Linked DNA regions of Homo sapiens: regions 1, 2, 4, 5 and 6 are each linked to region 3. Evidence: fine-mapped expression QTL. A gene starts in region 3. Each other region holds a variant in brackets. All regions are shown on one strand. Distances are from middle to middle. Region 1 overlaps ANO7 (anoctamin 7). Region 2 overlaps HDLBP (high density lipoprotein binding protein). Region 3 holds the start of SEPTIN2 (septin 2). Region 4 overlaps FARP2 (FERM, ARH/RhoGEF and pleckstrin domain protein 2). Region 5 overlaps FARP2 (FERM, ARH/RhoGEF and pleckstrin domain protein 2). Region 6 overlaps FARP2 (FERM, ARH/RhoGEF and pleckstrin domain protein 2).

Region 1 (4,087 bases), 93 kb before region 3:
CGAGATGGCGCCACTGCACTCCAGCCTGGGCAACAGAATGAGACGCTGTCTCAGGAAAAAAAAAAGAAAAAAAGAAAAAAGCACTACCTTTACAGATGCCTGCTGGTGAAACAAATCAAAGAAAATGATATTTTTATTTTTTTATTTATTTTATTTTATTATTATTTTTTTGAGACGGAGTCTTGCTCTGTTGCCCAGGCTGGAGTGCAATGGCGCGATCTTGGCTCACTGCACGCAACCTCCGCCTCCCGGGTTCAAGCGATTCTCCTGCCTCAGCCTCACAAGTAGCTGGGATTACAGGCGCCCACCACCATGCCCAGCTAATTTTTGTATATTTAGTAGAGATGAGGTTTCACCATGTGGGCAAAGCTGGTCTTGAACTCCTGACCTCAGGTGATCCGCCTGCCTCGGCCTCCCAAAGTGCTGGGATTACAGGCCTGAGCCACCTTTCACGCCCGTCCTATTCTCTTTTTTCTTTGGGACAGAGTCTTGCTCTGTCACCCAGGCTGGAGTACAGTGGTGTGATCTGGGCTCACTGCAACCCCCGCCTCCTGGGTTCTTGTGCATCAGCCTGCCAAGTAGCTGGGATTACAGGCGTGCGCTACCACACCCAGATGATTTTTTTTTTTTTGTATTTTTAGTAGAGACAAAGGTTTCACCATGTTGGCCAGGCTGGTCTCAAACTCCGAACCTCAGGTATCTGCCCACTTCAGCCTCCCAAAGTGTTGAGCCACTGCACTTGGCCTAGGGAAGGGATTATTTCTTTTTTTTCTTTTGAGATGGAGTTTTCCTCTTGTCGCCAAGGCTGGAGTGCAGTGGCATGATTTTGGCTCACTGCAACCTCCACCTCCCAGGTTCAAGCGATTCTCCTGCCTCAGCCTCCTGAGTAGCTGGGATTACAGGTGCCTGCCACCATGCCCAGCTACTCTTTTATATTTTTAGTAGAGACGGAGGTTTCACCATGTTGGCCAGGCTAGTTTCGAACTCCTGACCTCAAGTGATCCACCTGTCTCAGCCTTCTAAAGCACTGGGATGGCCGGGCGCGGGGGCTCATGCCTGTATTCCCAGCACTGTGGGAGGCCGAGGCCGGTGGATCACAAAGTCAGAAGATTGAGACCATCCTGGCTAACACGGTGAAACCCCGTCTTGACTAAAAATACAAAAAATTAGCTGGGCATTGTGGCACGGGCCTGTAGTCCCAGCTACTCAGGAGGCTGAGGCAGGAGAATCGCTTGAACCCAGGAGGCGGAGGTTGCAGTAAGCGAAGATCACGCCACTGCACTCCAGCCTGGGCAACAGAGCGAGACTCTGTCTCATAAATAAATAAATAAATAAATAAATAAATAAATAAATAAAGTGCTGGGATTACAGGCATGAGCCACCGCGCCCGGCTGAAAGAGTTACGTCTTTGTTTAGTTCTGGAAATGTCTCCATCTTACTCCTTCCAGCAGTGCTTCTCTGCTTGTCCATTGTCGTCTGGAACTCCCACTGGGCTGTGGCCTGCTTCCCCCCAAGTGTGCTCTCTGTGTTGCCGCAGGGTGGTCTCGTCGTCACTGTCTCCCAGTCCCCAGTCTCTCTTCTGCTGTGTCTGGCCACTTAAAAGTTTATTCCATTCATTTGAGGGATTTTTTTTCCAATGGCTATATTTTTAACTTGCAATATTTGGTTTTTTGTTTTTTTTATTTTCCTACAAAGTTGACCCTGGTAATAGTTTTCATGGAGTGCAACATGTAACTTTATATTAGAAAATGGAATGTCACATCTTTACCATGGGACAGAGACACAGGAAGATGTCAAAGTCTGAAATAGCAAGTGAAGCTGAATGTAGCTTATGATAGGGAGGGAGGGCTCTGCTGGACAGGGACAGTCTCTGAGCAGGTGAACTGCTGATCTCACAGAGGTCAGCAATCGGCGGATTTTCACC[G/A]TGTAAGTAGACTGAAGTCATCCGTAGAAGCACAGACGTACTGGACTGTCACATCTACTAGAAAATAAAGCATCTGCCACCTGGGGGGTGGGGAGGGTCCAGTTTAGCCCAATGGGGGACAACCCAGCACATCCACCTTTGGAACCCACCAGTTAAAGGTATTGTCAGAGTATCCTGTTTGGGAAGAATTCCCATTTCAGGCACCCTCGATGAAGAGCCAGGCCAGGAACATGGGATGAGAGAGCGAAATGGTGGAAAAAGGGGAGATAGGCTAATTCCAGAGGCACCTGCCCAGCCAACACTCAGCCCTGGCTGCGCGCACTGAGTCCTGTGTCTGCTGCAGGTATCGGGCTTTCCGGGATGACGATGGACATTATTCCCAGACCTACTGGAATCTTCTTGCCATCCGCCTGGCCTTCGTCATTGTGTTTGAGGTAGCCGAGGCACCTGCTGGTTCTCCCATCCATGGCATGAGGCCCCGACCCTGTGCTTTGCCTAATTCGAGCACGTGGTGAGGGGTCGGTGCCGTCACTTCCTGCTGTGTCATCTTGGTCAAATCAGAGCTCTTCTCTGCACCTGCGTTTTCCCTGCCTGGCCTCATCCCTGGGTTGTGGTGTGGACATTGTGGGTGTCTCCACAGGAGCCCCAGGGCCACGAAAGCTGGGGTGGCCTCTGCCCCTTCTGGGGTTCCTTTTCCTGCACAGCTGCTTTCTGACTCCACCCACAGCTGGGAGCAGGTGCCGGAGCCCCGGCCTGCCTGGCCCTGTGAAGGCCACTCTGGGCGTTTGGGTGGGCGTGAGTGCCTTCCTCTGCTCCCAGCATGTGGTTTTCTCCGTTGGCCGCCTCCTGGACCTCCTGGTGCCTGACATCCCAGAGTCTGTGGAGATCAAAGTGAAGCGGGAGTACTACCTGGCTAAGCAGGCACTGGCTGAGAATGAGGTGAACTGTACAGCCCAGTCTCGGCCCTCCCCCCAGCCCTCTCCCTATCCTTGTCAGTGGCTGCTCTACCTCCGGACACTGAGTCACATCCCTCTTCCTCTTGCTGCCCTTTTTTGGGGACAGGTTCTTTTTGGAACGAACGGAACAAAGGATGAGCAGCCCGAGGGCTCAGAGGCAAGTCTGGGAGCAGCCAGGCCCCTGCCCCGTGCACTCCCTGAGGTCACAGGGCCCTGCCCAGCCGCCCACTGTGCCTCGTGGCCATGGCCTGCTCCTGGCCCTAGTCTGACTTGTCCCTGCCCCCAACCCTCTCCCCAGCTCAGCTCCCACTGGACACCCTTCACGGTTCCCAAGGCCAGCCAGCTGCAGCAGTGACGCCTGGAAGGACATCTGGTGGTCCTTAGGGGAGTGGCCCCTCCTGAGCCCTGCGAGCAGCGTCCTTTTCCTCTTCCCTCAGGCAGCGGCTGTGTGAACCGCTGGCTGCTGTTGTGCCTCATCTCTGGGCACATTGCCTGCTTCCCCCCAGCGCCGGCTTCTCTCCTCAGAGCGCCTGTCACTCCATCCCCGGCAGGGAGGGACCGTCAGCTCACAAGGCCCTCTTTGTTTCCTGCTCCCAGACATAAGCCCAAGGGGCCCCTGCACCCAAGGGACCCTGTCCCTCGGTGGCCTCCCCAGGCCCCTGGACACGACAGTTCTCCTCAGGCAGGTGGGCTTTGTGGTCCTCGCCGCCCCTGGCCACATCGCCCTCTCCTCTTACACCTGGTGACCTTCGAATGTTTCAGAGCGCAGGGCCGTTCTCCCTCGTGTCCTCTGGACCCACCCGCCCCTTCCTGCCCTGTTTGCGCAGGGACATCACCCACATGCCCCAGCTCTCGGACCCTGCAGCTCTGTGTCCCAGGCCACAGCAAAGGTCTGTTGAACCCCTCCCTCCATTCCCAGTTATCTGGGTCCTCTGGATTCTTCTGTTTCTTGAATCAGGCTCTGCTTTCCCCCTAGCCACTACAGGCAGCCTCTGACAGTGCCGCTTTACTTGCATTCTGCAGCAATTACATGTGTCCTTTTGATCCTTGCCCAACTTCCCTCCCTCTCCCAGCTCCTGGCCCCTGGCCCAGGGCCCCTCTTGCTGTTTTTACCTCTGTTCCTTGGGGCCTAGTACCCAGCAAGCACCCAAATGGGGGAGGTTTTGGGATGAGAGGAGGAAACGTGTATACCTGTAACATCTGGTGG
Region 2 (4,085 bases), 63 kb before region 3:
ACCACAGGCCTGGCTAAATTTTTCTTTTTTGTAGAGACAGGGGTCTCACTATGTTGCCCAGGCTCATCTCGAACTCCTGGGCTCAAGTGATCCTCCTGCCTTGGTCTCCCAAAATGCTGGGATTACAGGCAAGAGCCACCGTGTCAGGCCTAAACAAACGCTACAGTTAACCAAAACCAAAACAAAACCGTAAAAGCAAGTTTATGGTGTATGTGTGGTTCAAGTAGTGCGCAAAAAGGTCACTTTGTGCCTACAGACTCTCGTCGCTGTCACGTAAAATGCCCACAAAACATAAGACTGACACCAGAGAGCTCACCATTGCACAGGCCACAGCACAGCTGCCAAGGCTATGTTTACTCATAACAAAAACGGATACACGGACGTCAGTCATGTTATGCAGGTCGGTGTCCCACTACCTGGGAAAGGCTCCTTCATCCACTGAACTATCCAGGAATGGAGGACGTGCTTGCCTTCTCACCTTCCACCCAAAGGTAACACACGCGACGTGTGCACTTGTTTTCAGAACACGCGAGTGTGTGAGTATAGCCATACAGTTAAACAAAGAGGTGTAAAAAAACATTCTTGGTTGGGCACAGTGGCTCATGCCTGTAATCCCAGCACTTTGGGAGGCCGAGGTGGGCAGATCAACTAAGGTCAGCAGTTTGACACCAGCCTAGACAACATGGTGAAATTCCATCTCTACTAAAAATACAAAAAAATTAGCTGGGTGTGGTGGTGCACGCCTGTAATCCCAGCTACTTGGGAGGCTGAGGCAGGAGAATCGCTTGAACCTGGGAGGTGGACGTTGCAGTGAACTGAGATCACGCCACTGCACTCCAGCCTGGTGACAGAGCGAGACTCCGTCCCAAAAAACAAACAAACAACACAAAACATCCTTGGACCTGCAGCAGAATGCCCACGACACACTTCTAACAGCATCCTGTAACTGTGCTACACCTGCAACCTGGCACAGGTGAGGCACACAGCGACCTTGGCCCACATGACATACTTCCAACAGTGTCCTGTAACTGTGCTACACCTACAACCTGGCACAGGTGAGGCATATAGCGACCTTGGCTGACATATCACTGCCTCTTCAACAGAATCCCCCTGCTGGGTGTGGTGGCTCACACTTTTAATCCCAGCACCTTGGGAGGCCAAGGTGGGCAGATCACCTGAGCCCAGGAATTTGAGACAAGCCTGGCCAACATGGTGAAACCCCGTCTCTTCTAAAAATACAAAAATTAATTGGCTGTGGTGGCATGCACCTGTAGTCCCAGCTACTCAGGAGGCTGAAGCTGGAGAATTGCTTGAGCCCGGTAGGCAGAGGTTGTAGTGAGCTGAGATCACGCCACTGCACTCCAGCCTGGGTGACAGAGTGAGACCCTGTCTCAAAAAAGTATCCCTCCCCATGTTGTTTTACTTGGGCACAAATCTAGAATGTTTTTACTCTTCAGTGAGTTCCAGATCAGCAGTTTCCACGTTCAGAAGGCATGAGTACTACCAACACTGATTGGCTAACCTAGCAGGTCTGACGGAAATATAGAGAATGCTGCCCTTGGGCATGCCTTCAACATGGCCTCTGTGGGTTATTTGGGGAGGGCTTAGATGGATTTCCAAAAGTGACAATTCACCCACTGGCCAAGCAGCTCTAATCCAACCACTGCACCAAAGGGAAAAGGAAAAGTGGCCTCTTCCAGCAGGCAGGAGGATGTAAAGTCTGTAACTCCCATTACAGGCAGCAATGGGCCTGGACTGTCTGCACGGACGTCACAGTTCTCACAGCTGACACCCCCCACAAGGGTCTCAGGGCACACTGGCCCCACCGCAACAGACAGCCTCACTCACTGTTGGCACCGCTCTTCCCAATGAGGTGCCTGTGGAACTTGTGGTCGATGTTGATCTCCACATAGTCCATCCGGTTAATCTGCAGGAGGAGCACAGAGGTCCATGGATGCGCCTGGTTACTTGGCCAATGAGCTGAACCAAAACCCAGCAGTCTCCACGGTTGCCTTTTCTGACCACTCAGCTGTCAGGAATTGTTGGAGACTGCCCCTGCATCTCCCCTGAAAGATGCCTTCTTCAAGATGAAGTTTCCTCCACCCACGATTATTCCAGGACTTCGACCAGCTTCTGGTTGTTTCAGAACCTATTACTCACCCAGCTAGGATGCCCTGGGTGTCTGTGCCCGGACATGTGGGATGTCATCGAGAGATGACCGCCCATGCCCAACTCAGAGCCTCCCTTGTCACCAGCACACACAACATTCCAAGGGGTACCTTACCAAATCTTTGACCATGCCTTCTATCTGTTCCTGGGCCACA[T/C]TGACATCCTCTGTAGGGCCCTCCAGGGTGATCTTGTCTTCGCCCTCTGTGAACTCGATGTGAACCTACCACACCAAAACCAAAGAGATAGCTAAAACAGAATGGCACAGCTGCAGCCCCTGAGCTCCCAGTGGGAGCTCTCTTCGGAGCGGCTTCTGATCCCAAACTGCTTCACATAGATGTGAGGGAGGGAGGGACATATCCACAGCCATCAAACAAAGTTGAAAGGGAGGGTTAGGGAGCCATAGTCAGGAAACTAAATACTGTGGCCGAATAATCCTGCCTCTCACTAAGGACACCGTTTGCCCCACAGAAGCCACTAACATAAAGCATGCGACATGCGACATGCTCCTCCACCATCTGAACTTTTACAAGGCCTGGTCCTCTTGAGTTGCATAAAGAATGAGACAGAGCACGGATGGAATTTTAAAACTCGTATAGCTGTACCAAGGTGGTAAAGTAACTTGCTTGACATAGACAAGGCTGCCAGAGTTCCTGGTTTATTATCCTCCAGGTAAGGAGTTAAGGAAGGCAGACTGGTCCTTATATGAAGCTATACAAAGTAAAAGGGGCTGGGCACAGTGACTCACACCCATAACCTCAATATTTTGGGAGGCTGAGGTAGGAGGACTACTTGATCCCACGAGTTCGAGATCAACCTGGGCAACTAGTAAGACTCTGCCTCCACGAAAACTAGCCTGGGGCGCCTGTAGTGCCAGCTACTTGGGAAGCTGAGACGAGCGGATCACTTGACCCATGAGTTCAAGGCTGCAGTGAGCTATGACTGCGCTACTGCACCCCAGCCTGGGTGACAGAGTGAGGCTTTGTCACTAAAAAAAAGGAATAAAATAAAAAAAATTTAATTTTTAAAAAGGACTGTAACATTAATTGGAAACAAAGTTTAAATAAAACAGGAATTAAATATGATGGTTGGATTCTCTGGTATTTCTTTTTTGTTCATGTTTCCTGGGGGCTACAATCTCCTTTGGTAAACTGAGAACGCTTTAAATTCACACTTAATACAATTTGTATACAAGTTCTGCTCTTCAAAGTATTTTTTTTTTTTTTTTGAGACAGAGTCTCGCTCTGTCGCCAAGGCTGGAATGCAGTGGTGCCATCTCGGCTCACTGCAAGCTCCACCTCCCGGGTTCACGCCATTCTCCTGCCTCAGCCTCCCAAGCAGCTGGGACCACAGGTGCCCGCCACCAAGCCCGGCTAATTTTTTGTATTTTTAGTAGAGTCGGGGTTTCACCATGTTAGCCAGGATGGTCTCGATCTCCTGACCTCATGAGCCACCGCACCCGGCCCGCCAAAGTATCATGAAGTTATTTCACCATAATTACTAAATGACATGTTTCTTAAGATACTTATGAAACCTAAGAACATACAATCCTCTCTGGTTAAAGGCCAGAAGGATGGTACAGACATCTACAGACATTTATTCTGCTGTTCTTTAAGCTAACACGGAAGTTGACCATGTCAAACAGGCCAGTTAATTCAGAAAAATACACCAGTTTTCAAGGGCATCCACAGTACAAAGGTCAACAAAGCAATATCAGAAACAGAAAGACAGAAAACAAGACAAATTCAATACAACAGGTGAAAAACGTGTCCTTACCTTTGGCATCTGCTGAGTGATTTTGGCCAGGTTCTGCCCTTTCTTGCCAATGATGAAACGGTGAAGCCAGGAAGGGGCGGCGACAGAGGAGACGGTGAAGCTATTGGCCTAAGAAAATGGGAGAACAGCCATGGGTTTGCAGA
Region 3 (4,087 bases):
CTTATTATGCAATGTGCCGCTACCAGGAGCCTTAGACAAAACCCTAATTGTGACTTAACCTATCTTAATAGGGTTTTAAGGAAGTTAGCTGCTAAGAAAGTGACTATCCTTAAGCAGACACCAAATAAATGTGAAGTCATTGATTGAGGGCTTAGGGTATAGGTAGCTATGAATCTGAGGACATAAAACGCAAAACTGAGGGGCAAATCGTCATGTTCCTTAAGATTACGACTCATCCACATTCCTTCAGCCGTTTAATTTCACCATAATAGGCACTGTTTAATAAGCAAAGCCCAAGTCGACTTCCTTCGATTTTACATGGCGTCCAAACACCATGTCAAGTCTGACCCTCTCATTTTTTAAGTCGAATGGAGAGGATATGTAGCAGCTAGCCTTGAGCACCTAACCACTTTTCAAAGGAGCTACGCACAAAAATACCCTAGCAACATGCCACGGTGTCAGAAAGGCTCAGGTTCCCAACACCATGCGGGTCAGCCATTAGGAACTCAGGAAGTGTTTCCTCTAAGCGGGGGAAACCTAGGAAGGCTTCCTGAACGAGGGGTATTTGCGCCAAGCCTTGACGTGAGTCTCGAACAGTTGCAGTGCCTCCAGGCCACGCGGGAGGGAGGAAAGGACACCCCGGGCCGGGGCACAACCCGCGGGCCGGAGCCGCCCGCGCCCATCCCGCTCAGGCCGCAGCCAGGCACGGCACCCTCCCGTCCCCGAGCCACGTCGCTGCTCGTGGGCTCGCGGAGCACTCCCCAGGTCTCACCTCGGGCCCCACACCAGAAGGAGAAAGCTAGGGGCCGCGCCAGCTCCGCCCTCCCCCGCGGGGCGGCGGGCCCCAGCCCGGGCACAGGAAGGCCACGTCCCCGGGGAGGGACGCCCGACTCGATGGTCTGCGCAGGGCCCGTCGGCCCCACGTGACGTGCGCGCAGCCAATCCCAGAGAGGCCCCCCGATCATCGAGACGGCGGCGGTGGTGGGCTAGACGAGTTTCGCGCGGCCGCTCGCCGTCCCCCGCCCAGTCGTACTCGGCGCCCCAGCTCGGTGCTGCCGCCATCTTCTTGGAGGACAGGAGGAGAGGCGAAGGCTCCCCCTCCCCGTGATCGCTCCGCACTCCCGCCACCACCTGCCCTCCCGCGACCGCCTCTCTCCTCCTCAGTGGGCACTTGTCTCCTTCTAACAAACGGCCTTCCCCCCACTCCAGTTACCCACCGCAAGGCGAAGATTCTCATTACCTGTTCCACTCTTATAAGCATAAGAAAACCGAGCTCATAAGGTAGGAACTGTGGCGAAACAGGGACAAGCCGCCATCTTGGTAAAGGAGAAGAGGCTACGCTTGACCTCCCCCCCCACCCCCAGCCTCTATATGGCCAACTGCCGTGGGAGGAGCACGGCGCTTGCGCAGAGGCGGACAACGCGGACGACTCTGGGCTTGCGCACTCGGAAGCCGGCCGCATGGGGGAGGGGAAGAAGGCCAGGTCGCACTGAGCCAGGAAGCAGTTGGCAAAGGGGCGGGGTGACGCGGTGACGCAATCCGCCTGCGCGCTGGGCGGGGCGGGGCGGGCTGGGGCGGGCTGTGAGCGGACCGCGAGCGCTGGGCGGGTCCGCGGCGCGGTCGGTCGGCGCCTGTTCTCGGGCTGTTTGGCGGGTGAGTGTCTCGCCGGTGTACCCCGCACAAGTTGTGGGCCGGCCCTCCCGAGGAGCTGCGGGGGACGCGCCGCTCGTCCCATACTCTCGGGCGGTGGTCGGCTGGCTCTGGGGTGCCGGCGGGGCGGTGTGGGGGAGGGGCGGCCGAGCCCAGGCTCTTCGGCACTTATCGTGGGCTCCCCCGTCCCGGGCGGTCCTAGTGCCGGCGACAGTGGCTCCGACACGGGCAGGCCCGGGCGCGGGAGTGGGGATTCCGGTGACCCCTTGTTGACCCTGCGGGAATTCCTCTGCACTGTCGTCGGTGCTGGGCCTCGGGGCGTCGAGTGCGGTCGAGGTCGGGAGGTTTGGTGCTTGGAGGGAGGATACAGGTTTAGGCCCGACAAACACTTAGAGCTTGTGTGGCCATCTTGTCTTTCTAACGGTGCCATTTCCTCCCTGAGGCGTGGAGGACTGGCCAGCCCCCAAACCTCCAAGCCCATCGGCTGGATGCCGTGGATAAGCGAGGGGAGAGCGACTAGGCCCTGTCTGCGGGTACCTTCGGCGAGGAGAGGCGACGAAGGTCTGCACCAGCGAGGCACGGACAGGCAGCAGGGGGTAGGGTATAGGGTTGGAGGCCGCCGAGTTGGCCCGGGGATGAGGAGCAAACCTGTGGCTTCCGTGGTCTCAGTGGAGTCCCAACTGTGACCTGGCCTACTGGCCCAGACAAACCTGGCTTGCTTTTTTACCTTTTCGGTCTAATTCTTGTCAGTGCCACCAGACCTTGTCCTCTCTCCACGGAAACACACGAACCAACTACACTGAACTTCTTGTAGTTCAAACTTCTGCACCTTTGGCCATTGCCCAAACTCTTAAATCTGGCTACTTCCCACCTTAACTGCCTTCTCCTTACCTAGTCTGTGCTTGTGGGATTCCGCCCAAATTAGATTTCCTCCAGACAGGCTTAGGTGTTTACCTGATGTTCCAGATGGTATTTGTCCAGTGGACTATTGGTGCTGTGAGGGCAGGGCACATGTTGTCACCCATACTCATTGCCTCGGTTGGTGTCTAGCACCTAGTAGGTTCTCAAATACTTTTTGAATCACAGTGCCTGCCGATATATTTAATGTTTCAAAATAGTTCTGCCGTCATAAAGAAAAACATCATGGTGTAGGGGTCATGAAAGCTGATTCTTGATACTTCTGATTTGAGCCTCATTGTTTTCAGTGATTTTTGATAGCTCCCATTAATGGGTTCTTTGCACCACCCAGCATCCTAACTCATGATGTGTACTGTTATGTATAATCTTGGCATTGATCTCATTAGCTATAAAGGTTGTCCTGATTTTTTTTCCTCAACTTCCACCTTGATTTCTCTCACCAGTGCCACAGCCAGGAATAAAGAACAAGAGCGTTTTAATTAGATCAGATTTACATTCTGACTGGCTCTTAAACTAGCAAGGTGACCTAGGGAAAGGGGCCAGGGTTTCCCTCTATCATTCATAAATGTAATTCAGGGCCCCTTTTTATCCCCAATACCAGCATACAGAAACTGCTGTAAAAGAAGAAGTTGTGGGTATTTTTTTTTTTTTTTTTGTCTGGAGGAATGGGGACACCAAAACTCATTTGGCAGCAGAGGTGAGGTAAGGCCATTTGTATTGTCTGTTCTGTTAGTAGTCATACATGCCACTTATCCCTGCCCCAGTCCCTGTTAGGAGTGTTATGTGGGTATACTGAACGTGGACCTTCCCCGAATCCAAAGAATCCAGATGCTTTGAATAAGATCATGGACCTTCCGGGTTCTACATCGCCAGATGTTGTTCATCTTCTATCTTTTGTTTTGCGAAAATTGGTTTTTTATGTGTATTGGGGTTATTCTGTGGAAGAAATAAGCTGTGGGTCAAGATTAAAGAACTTTAAACAACTTCTGGCATGTGGAATAAACACGATCTGAAGGAACAAAATTTTCATTTGACTACATTTTTGGTCCAATTTGCACCCAGTGTTTAAGTTAATCACAGTGCTTGGCAGTTTGTGTTGCTGGATCAAGGCTTTCTCACTGAAAACCATGTGCTTCAGAGGTTCATAATTCCTCTTTCACCTTCCATTTCACATTAGTTAATAAATTATGAGAGAAAACATTGTGGATCCAAGTTATGTTTCAGAAAAAAAAAAACAGGAAAAAAAAAAGATGGCAGGAGAAACTTGGTAAAGTCAAAGCAAAGTTGAAATGTCAGTTTAAGACAAATAGTTTCTCCATTTTCCCATATGTGTGCACAGGGTTCAGTGAGGCTGAGGGGTTCTGTGGAGGTGCGGGAGAGGTGCTCTATGGTATTTCTATGTTGCACTGTGTGGGTTTGAAATCAGATACATGTAATAGGTGATAAGGTAAGTGCCTGCTCTTTTCTATCCTCAGCATTGGCATTTAATCTTTCCATGTGAACTTAAAGCTCATTTTAT
Region 4 (4,087 bases), 67 kb after region 3:
TGGCCTGTTCTGATTGCCACCGCCAGCCACTTTGTCCTGGGGTGCCACTCCCCTCTAGTGCCCAAAACCTTTTAGACTCAGCTGTACCCCGGCCTGCTGCTTGTTGTTGTATTGTGGAGAAATTCCTCAAGGTGCTCTAGGCAGGATTGAGGACCGCTGACTTTGAGAAGAGTTCACAGGCTCTGGAGCGTGGACTTCCCACCTGAGCTCCCCTCAGCCTGCCTCATCCATCAGGCACCTTTTGCTGATGCCATTTCTTTCTCACCCTCATTTCTCCCCTTCTGTTCATCCTTGAACACAACAGACCTCAGAGCCCTCTTCTCCACAGCTGGAAGGTGCAGTGCTTTTCAGGGTTCTGCTGGCACTTCACTTCTGGGGGCATTTTTCAGTCATATCGGCCTCACGTAAGGAAGCTAATTCTACATTATTGTTCCTTTTTAGGTATAGAAAGTAGTCATGAATCTCCAGAGAGCTGATGGTAGAATTACAGTGATCTCTGTTCTTTGAGAGAGTGCATTCTACTTTTTTACCTTACCAAGTGTTACATGTATATTTTTCAAGTTATATGATTATTTCACAGATTATGTGTTCACAGTGGTTTAACACTTGCACTGCAGCATCTCAGCTTTCTGGGGATGAAGCTGCCCCTGGTGAAGCCCCCCAAGTCCTTTCCTGCATGTCGAGCAAAGGCCCATTGGGTTACATGCTGCAGCTAGAAGACCAATCAACGCCATCTCTCAAGGTTCCTCATGCTTCTTTTTTTAGAGGGAATTCATCCAAAATGTAATTCGGTTTTCATTATACCATTAATACTTGTACGCTGCAGAAAAACAGGAACTCACAGTGGCCCACAGCCAAAGATAACTACCCAGAGAGAACAACCATTCACATTTTTCTGAATACCCTTCTGGCCTTTTATATGTTCACCTATATTAAACAAAATTGGGACTGAACTATGTGCATTTTTGTAGTCTTTTCAAAAATTAAACATTATATTCTGAACTTTTTTTATATGGTCTTTTAAAAGTTTTTAATGGCTATATAGTGTTCTATTTTCAGTTTCTCTGTACAAAATCTATTTTTTTTTTTTTTTTTTTTGAGGCAGGGTCTCATTCTGTTGCCCAGGCTGGAGTGCGGTGGTGCAATCCAACCTCCGCCTCCTGGGCTCAAGCGATCCTCACACCTCAGCCTCCCAAGTAGCTGGGACTACAGATGTGTGCCACCATGCCCGGCTAATTTTGCATTTTTTGGAGAGATGGGGTTTCCCCATGTTGCCTAGGCTAGTCTTGAACTCCTGGGCTCAAGCCGTATACCAGCCTTAGCCTCCCAAAGTGCTAGGATTACAGGTGTGAGCCACCACACCCAGTCTATACAAAATCTTTATACACATTTTTTATTATCTCCTTGGGGTAAACGTATAGAAGTGGAGGTTCTTCATCAAAGTGTATGTACAGTTTTGAGGTCTTTGATACATGTTGTGAAATTGTATTCCAGAAACAGCAGAAGCACCTCATGCCCCTACCAGTGGTATATGCAGGTGTTCATTTCTCTCA[C/T]CTTTATGGACATTTCATATTACAATTTTTAGTAACATCTCCTGTTTAATAGGCAAAAGTTAGGATTTTTATTCACATTTTCATCAGACTTGTCTGTTTTATTTTTTGTTTTGTGCAGTTTTTGGTGTTTTTGGTCTACATCATATTTGAAGTTTAAAAATAACTTAAGAGTTGGGAAGATACTGAATACATTGTGTTGGAAGTAAAATAAAAAAGGAAATAAGAATCGAGGAGTGCTGGAGACTTCGCAGAAAGTGATTACTTATGGTGAAGGAAAGGATAGAAAAATTACGGAAAGCCACACAGATGGGATGTGGGTTTGGGCTGTGCTCACCCCAACAGCCTTAGGCCAGCACGTGTTTGGCAGGTATTTGCTGAGCCTCGGTGTGCACCACCCTCTGCCGTCGGAGCTGGGAGTGCCAAAGTGAACGTAGCAGACAGGAGCTCTGCCTCCTTGCGCTTGTTCGGCAGTGGGGAGCTCAACAGTGGACAAGGTATACTGCGAAGTGCTTAGTGCCCAGGAGAGAAATAAAGCACGGAGGGAGCAGGAGACATGGAGCTGCGCTCAGATGGAGATCCACATCCCACACTCCCACAGCCCTGTTCCTGTGGTGGGAGGGGCCGGCACAGATCTCTGTTCTTGAGAACAGTGTTCAGGTGGATGGAACAGCACATGCAGGTGCCATTAGGTGACCCCCATCTGGCACGTTTGGGGATTAGCAAGAGACCATGTGGTGGGAGTGGAGCAGAGAGGCATCTAGGAGGGCTTCTGCTCACATGGAGGGAAATGGAACTCCACCCAGGACGTGATGACTTGGTCCAGAACCAGGTCAGGACAAGAGGGGAGCCTTTGGGTGACATTTGCGGTGACCCAGGATGTGGCTTGGGCAGAAGGGAGCAAGGGAGGTAGTGAGAACCAGTTGCATCCTGGAGAGATTTTGAAGGTGGAGCCTGCAGAATTTGCTGGTGCTGATGTGGAGGATCAGAAACCCAGGAGCCAACATGGTGCAAGGACTGGGCCTGAGCTCCCATGTCCTGCACTAGGGAGCCCATGGGAAGAGCTGCTTTGGTTTGGGGCCATGTGGAGTCGAAGAGGCTCATTAGGCATCTGAGGAGAGGGTTCTCAGGCACTGGGCTTGGTGGGAAGAAGCGTTGTTGCTATGTCCTGAAGGAATGTGAGCTCTTTTCAGTGCACCAGATGCAAGGCGGCCATTGCTGTGACCTTCCAGAAGGTGCTAACATTGCCCTTCTGTGAAGCCACCACTGTTATCCCGCTGGGTCATGGTGAATGCCAAGTGTCAGAGATATTCTGACACTTGGCATTCACCATGACCTAGTGGAAGCCTTTGGGTGACATTGCAGTCACCCAAAGACAGCTTTTCTAAACTGTCATCAGTCTTCGACTTCTGAACTTTTATTCTTAGAGAAATTTAGACTGGTCATTAAAGAGAAACATGAAAAGTATCTGTTGGCACTTCCAACTGTTGTTATTGGAATGCTCTGGAATGTTCTATGCACATGAATGATGCTTTACATGTACAGTTTTGCACTTTATATAGCAGCAGCTTTTTGCCACAGTGGTAGAGGGGATCCCAGTCCTACTTAAAGGCTTTTTCTGGTTTCTAGGAAAGTCAGAAAGATATTCTTTCCTCCTTGATCCACAATCTTAAACACTTGCCTGGAACTAATAAACTTCTGAAAAGCTAGTGATGAGAATCCGTTGCATCCTGGAGATGCAACTGATAAGTTCATGGATCAATCTAAAATATATTTCTTTGAAATAAATCTAATATTCCTGATTATGAAAAATACATTCCTTCTTAATCTTCTGGTTTTAGATATTGATGATGTTTTCTCATAATTACACTTTTTAGATTTGTTTGGTCCTTGCTAATATGCATCCATATGCTTTTTGCATGTATTGATATTTGAAACTGGTAAAGTCAGATCTTTGTAGCAGAAGAAAAACCTCTTTTTTATTAAAGCAATTTTCAATTAAGACAACTCAAACATGGCTTAAAGGCTCTAGACATTACTATCCTAGGAAAAATGTTGGAACATACATGCTAAAAATACACAGTGAGCTCTTTTAAAGTAAACATCTTAAATCAAGGTTATTCAGCTTTATATTGTTTGCTTCTGGCTTTAATTTACATCAATTGTAAATTTCTTAAAAACATAGAAAATAATAGAAACATGTCCTAAATTTAATTATGAATATTAATTGTATTAAGAAATGAAATTGTAAATTGTACATAAGTCCTAACATCATATAAAATTAGACTTGTTAGCTTAACATAAGCAAAAACAACCATCTTGCGAGTCTTTCATCAGCTCTTAGTAAAACACAGGATTTCGTAATGAATCTTCAAATTTTACTTATTTAGAGGAATCAAATTTGGAGAAAACTGAGAACACTAGAGGAGGGCAAACTTGTTTTGGAAATGGTTGCTAGAAAGTAAGTTATAAAAACTAAAACTCTTTTATTGCTGTTAATTTTCCTCAGTAAAGAAATTGATGCTGCTTTTTAAATC
Region 5 (4,087 bases), 82 kb after region 3:
CATATGTAGAAAGCTGAAACTGGATCCCTTCCTTACACCTTATACAAAAATTAATTCAAGATGGATTAAAGACTTAAACGTTAGACCTAAAACCATAAAAACCCTAGAAGAAAACCTAGGCATTACCATTCAGGACATAGGCATGGGCAAGGACTTCATTTCTAAAACACCAAAAGCAATAGCAACAAAAGCCAAAATTGACAAATGGGATCTAATTAAACTAAAGAGCTTCTGCACAGCAAAAGAAACTACCATCAGAGTGAACAGGCAACCTACAAAATGGGAGAAAATTTTCACAACCTACTCATCTGACAAAGGGCTAATATCCAGAATCTACAATGAACTCAAACAAATTTACAAGAAAAATCAAACAACCCCATCAAAAAGTGGGTGAAGGACATGAACAGACACTTCTCAAAAGAAGACATTTATGCAGCCAACAAACACATGAAAAAATGCTCATCATCACTGGCCATCAGAGAAATGCAAATCAAAACCACAATGAGATACCATCTCACACCAGTTAGAATGGCGATCATTAAAAAGTCAGGGAGCAACAGGTGCTGGAGAGGATGTGGAGAAATAGGAACGCTTTTACACTGTTGGTGGGACTGTAAACTAGTTCAACCATTGTGGAAGTCAGTGTGGCGATTCCTCAGGGATCTAGAACTAGAAATACCATTTGACCCAGCCATCCCATTACTGGGTATATACCCAAAGGACTATAAATCATGCTGCTATAAAGACACATGCACACGTGTGTTTCTTGCGGCACTATTCACAATGGCAAAGACTTGGAACCAACCCAAATGTCCAACAATGATAGACTGGATTAAGAAAATGTGGCACATATACAGCATGGAATACTATGCAGCCATAAAAAATGATGAGTTCATGTCCTTTGTAGGGACATGGGTGAAATTGGAAATCATCATTCTCAGTAAACTATCTCAAGGACAAAAAACCAAACACCGCATGTTCTCACTCATAGATGGGAATTGAACAGTGAGAACACGTGGACACAGGAAGGGGAACATCACACTCTGGGGACTGTTGTGCGGCGAGGGGAGGGAGGAGGGATAGCATTAGGAGATATACCTAGTGCTAAATGACGAGTTGATGGGTGCTGCACACCAGCATGGCACATGTATACATATGTAACTAACCTGCACATTGTGCACATGTACCCTAAAACTTAAAGTATAATAATAATAAAAATAAATAAATAAACTAGATTGATGTGTGTTTTGGTGTAGTCCCCTTAGAAAATTTGTTCTCATGAAGTATAAAGTTTTGTTCTCTGAATAACTTAACTTGCATACAGTGATCTATGTTAAGTGATCAAACTTCATAGTGTAGACACTGTACCAAACTTGTCTTTTTTTGGGTAATTTCTGTGATATGTATTCTGTTCTGCGTGACCATTTTAAAAGAGACCTTGGTAAGCTGAACTGTGTCCAGAAGAGATTGATCAGGTGAGGATTTAGGGAGGTAGAGGTTGGAGAGACATTTAGACGAAAGGCTAGGAATTATTTTCAAGCAGAACTGTCCAGCGGTAGAATCAGCTGCTTCATTGAGTTGTAGGTTCTTGGTGTATCAAGCAGAGGCGAAGTTCACAGCTCAGAGACTTTTGTAGAGAGGATTATTATAAAATGTGAAAGATCAATTTTCATGAACTCCAAAGGTTTTTTAAACCTTTTTTC[CT/C]TTTTTTTTTTTTTTTTTGAGACAGTCTCGCTCTGTCGCCCAGGCTGGAGTGCAGTGGCGTGATCTTGGCTCACTGCAACCTCCACCTCCCAGGTTCACACCATTCTCCTACCTCAGCCTCCCAAGTAGCTGGGACTACAGGCGCCTGCCACCATGCCCGGCTAATTTTTTTTGCATTTTTAGTAGAGATGGGGTTTCACCATGTTAGCCAGGATGGTCTCGATCTCCTGACCTCGTGATCCGCCCGCCTCGGCCTCCCAAAGTGCTGGGATTACAGGCGTGAGCCACCATGCCTGGCCCTTTTTTCCTTTTAATTACATTCTTATTGAAATATAACTTACATAAGAAAGTGCATGTGTCTTATGTGTGCAGCTTGATAATTTTTCATATGTATACACTTATGTATCCCCACCCAGAGAATGGAGTAGAACAGGCTCCCTGTGCCTGTCTCAGTTATGACCCCCAAAAGTAGCCAGTGTTTTGATCTTTAGCATTATAAATTAGTTTTGCCAGATCTTCAGGTTCATTTAAGTATGTATATATTTATCAGGTACATGAATACAATATGTACTATGTGAAAATTATCAGTGTTGTTGGTATAGCTGTGGTTTGCTTGTTTGTTCGTTGCTGGGTAGTATTCCATTGTAAAAACAAATCACTGTTTATCCATTCTGCTGTTTAATTGACATTTTGGTAGTTTCCAGTTTTGAGCTCCTATGAGTAAAGCTTCTGTGAACATTCTTTTTTTTTTTTTTTGAGACAGAGTCTTGCTTTGTCTCCCAGGCTGGAGTGCAGTGGTGCAATCTTGGCTCACTGCAACCTCTGCCTCCCAGGTTCAGGCAACTCTCCTGCCTCAGCCTCCCAAGTAGCTGGGATTACAGGCTGTGCCACCACGCCCGGCTAATTTTTGTATTTTTAATAGAGATGGGGTTTCACCATGTTGATCAGGCTGGTCTTGAACTCCTGACCTCAGGTGATCTGCCTGCCTCGGCTTCCCAAAGTGCTAGGATTACAGGCGTGAGCCACCGCATCCAACCAGACATTCTTGAATTTGTCTTTAGGTCTCTATAAACAGATATTTCTGTTGGGTTTATACCCCGGACTGGAATTGCTAGGTTATAGGGTATACTTCTGTATACCTTTAGTAGATACTGTCAGTTTTCCAAAGAGATAATACAAATTTACAGTGTTTGAGACTCCAGATGTTCTACTTTTCTTGCCAACATTAGGATTATCCATTTTTATATTCTCAGCTATTCTGGTGAGGGTCTAGTGGTATCTTATTGTGGTTTTAGTGTGCATTTCCTTGATGTAATATTGTCCAACTTTTCTTGTTGTTTATTGGACATTTGAATATCCTCTTTTGTGAAGTGCCTATTTAAGTCTTTCGGCCCATTTGTCATTAATTGGGTTGTCTGGTTTTTCCTTATGATTTGTAGATCTTTATATATGTTGACTACAAGACCTTTGTTGGGTTTGTTTGTTTGTTTTTGAGACGGAGTCTAGCTCTCTCGCACAGGCTGGAGTGCAGTGGCATGATCCCAGCTTACTGCAACCTCCACTCCCAGGTTCAAGCAATTCTCCTGTCTCAGCCTCCCAAGTAGCTGGAACTACAGGCACACGCCGCCACACCCGGCTAATTTTTGTGTTTTTAGTAGAGAGTAGTGAAAGTTTTGTATTTTTAGTCAGGCTGATCTCAAACTCCTGACCTCACATGATCCATCTGCCTCGGCCTCCCAAAGTGCTGGGATTACAGGCATGAGCCACCACACCCAGCCTCTTTGTTGGGTTTTTGTATTGCAACTATCTTCTATTTTGTGGCTTGCCTTTTTCCTATCTTAACAGTGTCTTTTGATATACAGAAGGTTGTAATATTCAGGTAGTCGATATCAGTCTTTTGGGGGTGGGGGAGCTAGTGTTTTTTGTGTCCTGTTTGAGAAATATTTGCCTACCCCAAGCTTTATTGTTGTGCCTTTCCGTGATTCATATTGAATTAATTTTGTGCATGGTGTGAGGTTGGAGTCAGTGCTTATTTTCACCTGTATGGATATGCAGTTTCCCTGGCACCATTCATGAAAAGATCATCCTCCCTGTACTGAAGGTTAAACACACATACATATGTTTGTTTGTGTGTATATATACAAATACCCATATAACTGTGAATTTTTGTGCCCGTATTTACAAACCCTGTCCTGGGTGTTGGACATTGCTGGTTAACAGGTGCCTTGTGAATGTGCTTGCACCTGCGTGGTTAGTGTCTATCGCCTTCATTAGTGTAGTCAGGCAGGGCTCCTGGAGCACACTCTGGCTGCACTACTCTAGGCAGTGCAGGGGCTCAGGTAGGACGGGGAACCCTGACCTCCCCATTGACTCACAGGGGCAG
Region 6 (4,087 bases), 140 kb after region 3:
TCATCCAGGCTGGAGTGCAGTGGTGCGATCTCGGCTCACTGCAAGCTCTGCCTCCTGGGTTCATGCCATTCTCCTGCCTCAGCCTCCCGAGTAGCTGGGACTACAAGCACCTGCCACCATGCCCGGCTAATTTTTTGTATTTTTAGTAGAGATGGGGTTTCACCGTGTTAGCGAGGTAAAGTTATCTTTAAAATTTGGCACTTAATAGTTACTGGTTTCCCATAGAAAAACATTAGAAATTAACCTTTGAGAATTTTTTTAAATAGAAAAGGATTTTTTTATTATAAAATACACAATGAAATATATTTCATCATCTTTAGAATTGGGCTGCAAATTTGGCACCTATTTATTCGAAAACAAACATGGTTTTAAGAAGGGGAAAATTATTACTGTGTTTTAGAAAACCAAAATAAAATCCCCATTAATGAAAAACTCAAGGAACTGGAAAACAGTATCATGAATTGAGCAGTTTTATATGATCCGTTTTTTAATGAATAATAAGTTTGGCCTTAAAATAGACATTGTCTTTTCAGATGTTAGCCCTGGTTTGACATCTTAAGTCTCTAACCTCTAGCAATGCACATAGAAAGTGTTCCCCCGTCCTGGTGGTGCCTTTTGCTTTACACACTTTGTGGTGCTTAGTTTTATCATAGTTACATATTCTGCAGAGCCCAAAAGAAGCCCCTAGAAACACAAGGTTGGTATCCAGGCCCCCCTAGAGTCCGGGGAGGATCCACACTGTCTGTGGATTGCTCTCTGAAATTGGGTAGATGAACCATCAACCCTCATTTTCATTTTATGTCATGTTTAGAATTGTGTGTGATAGAGGCTGTACATACACATTTTACAGGAAGCGCCTGGCACTGTGTGAGGCTGGCGGTTGAATGGTCAGGAGAGTAGTAGCGGCTCTAAGCCAGCCTCACAGCCCTTTCTCATTTCTCGCTCCATCCCCCTCCCCGTTCATTTCCAGGCCTTTCCACGAAGAGTCCTCAGCCTTCTCCCTCCAGCCGGAAGAGCCCCCTGAGTCTGAGCCCTGCATTTCAGGTGCCTTTGGGCCCAGCTGAACAGGGCTCATCCCCACTCCTGAGCCCTGTCCTCAGTGATGCTGGCGGAGCCGGGATGGACTGCGAGGAGCCCAGACACAAGGTGGGCCCCTCGAGGCTGAGAAGCTAGCAGAGGGTTGCAGGGTGGGCCTGTTTTCACTGTTCCTTCGGGTGGTGCTGGTGGGGACCCTGGGGCGGGGCAGGGAAGGGCTCTGCACTCACAGCCGCCTTACCAGCCTCCTGAGCAGAGAGGAGGTACTGGGCCGCCTTCCCTAGCAAAACCTTCCTGAGACTTTCCTCTTATCTCTGGGACTCCAGGTTCCTTCGTACAAAAACGAGTTTCCTTATTCATTTAGCAAACGGTCCCTGGAACCCACAGGCTCCATGTGTCAGGCTGGATCTTCCAGCCTCCCCCACTCTTCCTTCCTTCCTTCCCACCTTCCTCATTTCTCCCTCCCGTCCTCCCTCCTTTGCTCCTTTCTTCTCTCCCTGCTTGGTCAAGCTTCTACTTTGACAATTGAGTAACTGGGAGGAAAGATCTGGGTGCTAAGGGAGGGTGCACTAGGGACTGCTTTGGGTTCCGGAGAGGCTCTTGGGCAGGAGGCCCAGTGTAGAAAGATCTGGGTGCTAAGGGAGGGTACACTAGGGACCGCTTTGGGTTCCGGAGAGGCTCTTGGGCGGGAGACCCAGTGTAGAAAGATCTGGGTGCTAAGGGAGGGTGCACTAGGGACCGCTTTGGGTTCCGGAGAGGCTCTTGGGCGGGAGACCCAGTGTAGAAAGATCTGGGTGCTAAGGGAGGGTACACTAGGGACCGCTTTGGGTTCCGGAGAGGCTCTTGGGCGGGAGACCCAGTGTAGAAAGATCTGGGTGCTAAGGGAGGGTGCACTAAGGACCGCTTTGGGTTCTGGAGAGGCTCTTGGGCGGGAGACCCAGTGTAGAAACATCTGGGTGCTAAGGGAGGGTGCACTAGGGACCGCTTTGGGTTCTGGAGAGGCTCTTGGGCGGGAGACCCCGTGTCGATGTTGGAGACAGTGGAGGAGCCACCTGGGGCGAGGGGGCGGTTCTCTGCTGTTGTGGCACGGGG[A/C]GGGGGGCACATGGGCCACAGACAGGGGTGAGGCTTTATGACAAAGTTGAGGCAGTGTCCCCTATGGGTCTCTTTTTATCAGAGATGATAGGAATAAGGGCACAAACTGAGAGTCTGCAGGGAGAAAGTGACCGAGCAGAGAAGCTCACTGCTGGCAGGCACAGGGCAACCAGGGGCAGGGATGCTGTGGCCTCAGGGTGGCCTCCACTCTCCTAGCCCAGGGGAGTCTGCCTACAGCTACGGTTTTGCAGATGGACCCTAAAAGAAAAGACTCAGGGTCCAGGGAGTTTGTAGACTATATTGGGCCTGGAGTCCACAGAGAAGGGAGACATGGGGTCCCTGAGTGGCAGCTGGATGGGAAGAGGCCATGGGGCCTCTAGGAGGGAGGGAGTCAGTGCTGGTACAGGGGGAGGTATGTCATTGTGACACCTCAGCACTCCTGCTTTGGCCCGAATTGGCCAGAGGATATTCTGTCCAAGGCCTGCCTTCCAGATGCCAGGGCTACCCGTGGGATGCTGGGACTCTCAGCAGGTAGGATGGCACAGGCAGGGCAGTCTCCTCCTTCCTGGTGCCCTGAGGGTCCCCCTGGATCCCACTGGAGTGGAAGGAGCCCCCTGGTCTGGAGGCAGCAAAGGATATTAAACGTACTGCTGCACGAGGCCTGCAAGTGAGGGCTAGTTCTGGGCCCTGGCAGCAAGACTGTTTCCAAAAAAGATGTCTTTTTATTTTATTTTGGAAACCTAATGACAATCTCTTTAGTTCACTGTTTCTTTGGTACAAAAAAAAAAATGGCTACCAAGCAGTCTGTTATTAAGACTAAATTTTAATTTGTAACTTTTTATATTACAAAAATCAGTTGATTCTTTAGATGGTTCTATAGGATGACAGCTTGTCACATCTGAGGATAATTGGGCTGGTGGCAAGTGGCCCTGGGAGAAGCCTGTGAGTCATGACGTGGCATGGGGCCAGCAGCATGGCAAGGCCCTCTGGGATGGGGGCACCTCAGGGTCCTCACCGAGCCATGCCCTTGAGGAGTTGGTGGCTGGGTCACTGCAGAGAAAGATTCGGCAGCCCTTGGGCCCAGCCCCTGCGTGTGGGCACCCTCAGCCCTGACGTGGTGTCTCCTGTTGCCTCTCCTCAACACCTGGGCTCTGGAGGGAGGGCTCTGGGCTCTGCTTCAATTCTGTGTGTGTGAGTTGAGATAGCAAGGCTGTTGCCCAGCACAGGTGGGCTCCGAGATGGCAAGGATGGCCCTTTCATCACCATGCAGGGGCTGCTGGTTTGACCCAGAGGTAGGTTCCCACCAGAGTACCCCTCTGTGCTGACCTCATGAACCAGTGTGCCCAGCCAGGCTGCAACAGGTTCTGGGGAGACCCCGGCCCCACATTCACTGACGGTTCTGCTGGCAAGGCCTGGCAGACCACTCTCCTGGGGAGCCAGGGTGACAGGGGTCTGAGAAGCACGTGCTGCCACTGAGGCCACCCGTCAAGCTTTTGCACTTGCACCCAGTTGCTGGGCTGTGCGGGGAGGGGCAAAGAGCTGCCCACCCTCCAGCCCACCCTCGCCAGCTGGTGCCCTCCTCCCCAGTGTCTCCCACTTGATGCACTGTTTGTCCCCTTTTTAATAGAGATTTGTGAGGATCGGCCACAGTCGAAAGGTAGGAAAGCCAAAGGTGGCAGAAGCCTCTTCCACGCTCTGCATGGGCACATAGACCCTTCATGTGGGGACAGGTGGCGAAGCTCACAGGAATTGCATGCTCCTCTGGGCCTATCCCTGGCCGCCGTCTCATCCCTGGCCTGCAGCCCAGCTTGCTGGGGGTCAGGTTTGACATTGATCTAGAGGTGGGGGCAGCGTGGCAGCTGCTGTATTTTCTGTCCCTGAGAGTCTTCTCACGGTATTCCTTGGGCTGATTGGGCGGGGCGGGGCGGGGGCAGGGGCGGGACGGAAGACCCTTCTCTTG

Evidence for each region.
Region 1: its variant is fine-mapped to the expression of SEPTIN2 in whole blood (TOPMed, PIP above 0.99).
Region 2: its variant is fine-mapped to the expression of SEPTIN2 in whole blood (TOPMed, PIP above 0.99).
Region 4: its variant is fine-mapped to the expression of SEPTIN2 in whole blood (TOPMed, PIP above 0.99). The same link has a PIP of 0.9 or more in blood mononuclear cells.
Region 5: its variant is fine-mapped to the expression of SEPTIN2 in monocytes after Pam3CSK4 (Quach 2016, PIP 0.95). The same link has a PIP of 0.9 or more in monocytes after LPS.
Region 6: its variant is fine-mapped to the expression of SEPTIN2 in whole blood (TOPMed, PIP above 0.99).

What each region holds. Positions count from the first base shown.
Region 1 is chr2:241,220,919-241,225,005 of GRCh38, forward strand. ANO7 (anoctamin 7) reads left to right here. Exons shown (of 25, transcript NM_001370694.2): 22 at 2,268-2,358; 23 at 2,744-2,863; 24 at 2,987-3,037; 25 at 3,179-4,087. The coding sequence ends at 3,235. Among named protein-coding and RNA genes, the nearest start is that of ANO7, 34 kb to the left of the region's middle. RefSeq lists enhancers at 2,811-2,980, 3,102-4,062 and a cis regulatory region at 2,896. The variant G/A (reference allele first, on the strand shown) is at 1,925.
Region 2 is chr2:241,251,109-241,255,193 of GRCh38, forward strand. HDLBP (high density lipoprotein binding protein) reads right to left here. Exons shown (of 28, transcript NM_005336.6): 9 at 3,943-4,050; 10 at 2,285-2,389; 11 at 1,849-1,927. Among named protein-coding and RNA genes, the nearest start is that of HDLBP-AS1, 19 kb to the right of the region's middle. The variant T/C (reference allele first, on the strand shown) is at 2,325.
Region 3 is chr2:241,314,330-241,318,416 of GRCh38, forward strand. It overlaps SEPTIN2 (septin 2), which reads left to right and starts at 1,596. Exons shown (of 13, transcript NM_004404.5): 1 at 1,596-1,653. It overlaps HDLBP (high density lipoprotein binding protein), which reads right to left and starts at 1,343. Exons shown (of 28, transcript NM_005336.6): 1 at 1,241-1,343. RefSeq lists enhancers at 319-368, 1,249-1,298, 1,319-1,418, 1,344-2,068, 2,059-2,118 and 1 more and silencers at 599-978, 1,519-1,868.
Region 4 is chr2:241,381,215-241,385,301 of GRCh38, forward strand. All of the region lies in intron 2 of FARP2 (FERM, ARH/RhoGEF and pleckstrin domain protein 2), which reads left to right. Among named protein-coding and RNA genes, the nearest start is that of FARP2, 27 kb to the left of the region's middle. The variant C/T (reference allele first, on the strand shown) is at 1,554.
Region 5 is chr2:241,396,128-241,400,214 of GRCh38, forward strand. All of the region lies in intron 2 of FARP2 (FERM, ARH/RhoGEF and pleckstrin domain protein 2), which reads left to right. Among named protein-coding and RNA genes, the nearest start is that of FARP2, 42 kb to the left of the region's middle. The variant CT/C (reference allele first, on the strand shown) is at 1,704.
Region 6 is chr2:241,455,777-241,459,863 of GRCh38, forward strand. It overlaps FARP2 (FERM, ARH/RhoGEF and pleckstrin domain protein 2), which reads left to right. Exons shown (of 27, transcript NM_014808.4): 14 at 971-1,146. Among named protein-coding and RNA genes, the nearest start is that of MIR3133, 20 kb to the right of the region's middle. The variant A/C (reference allele first, on the strand shown) is at 2,128.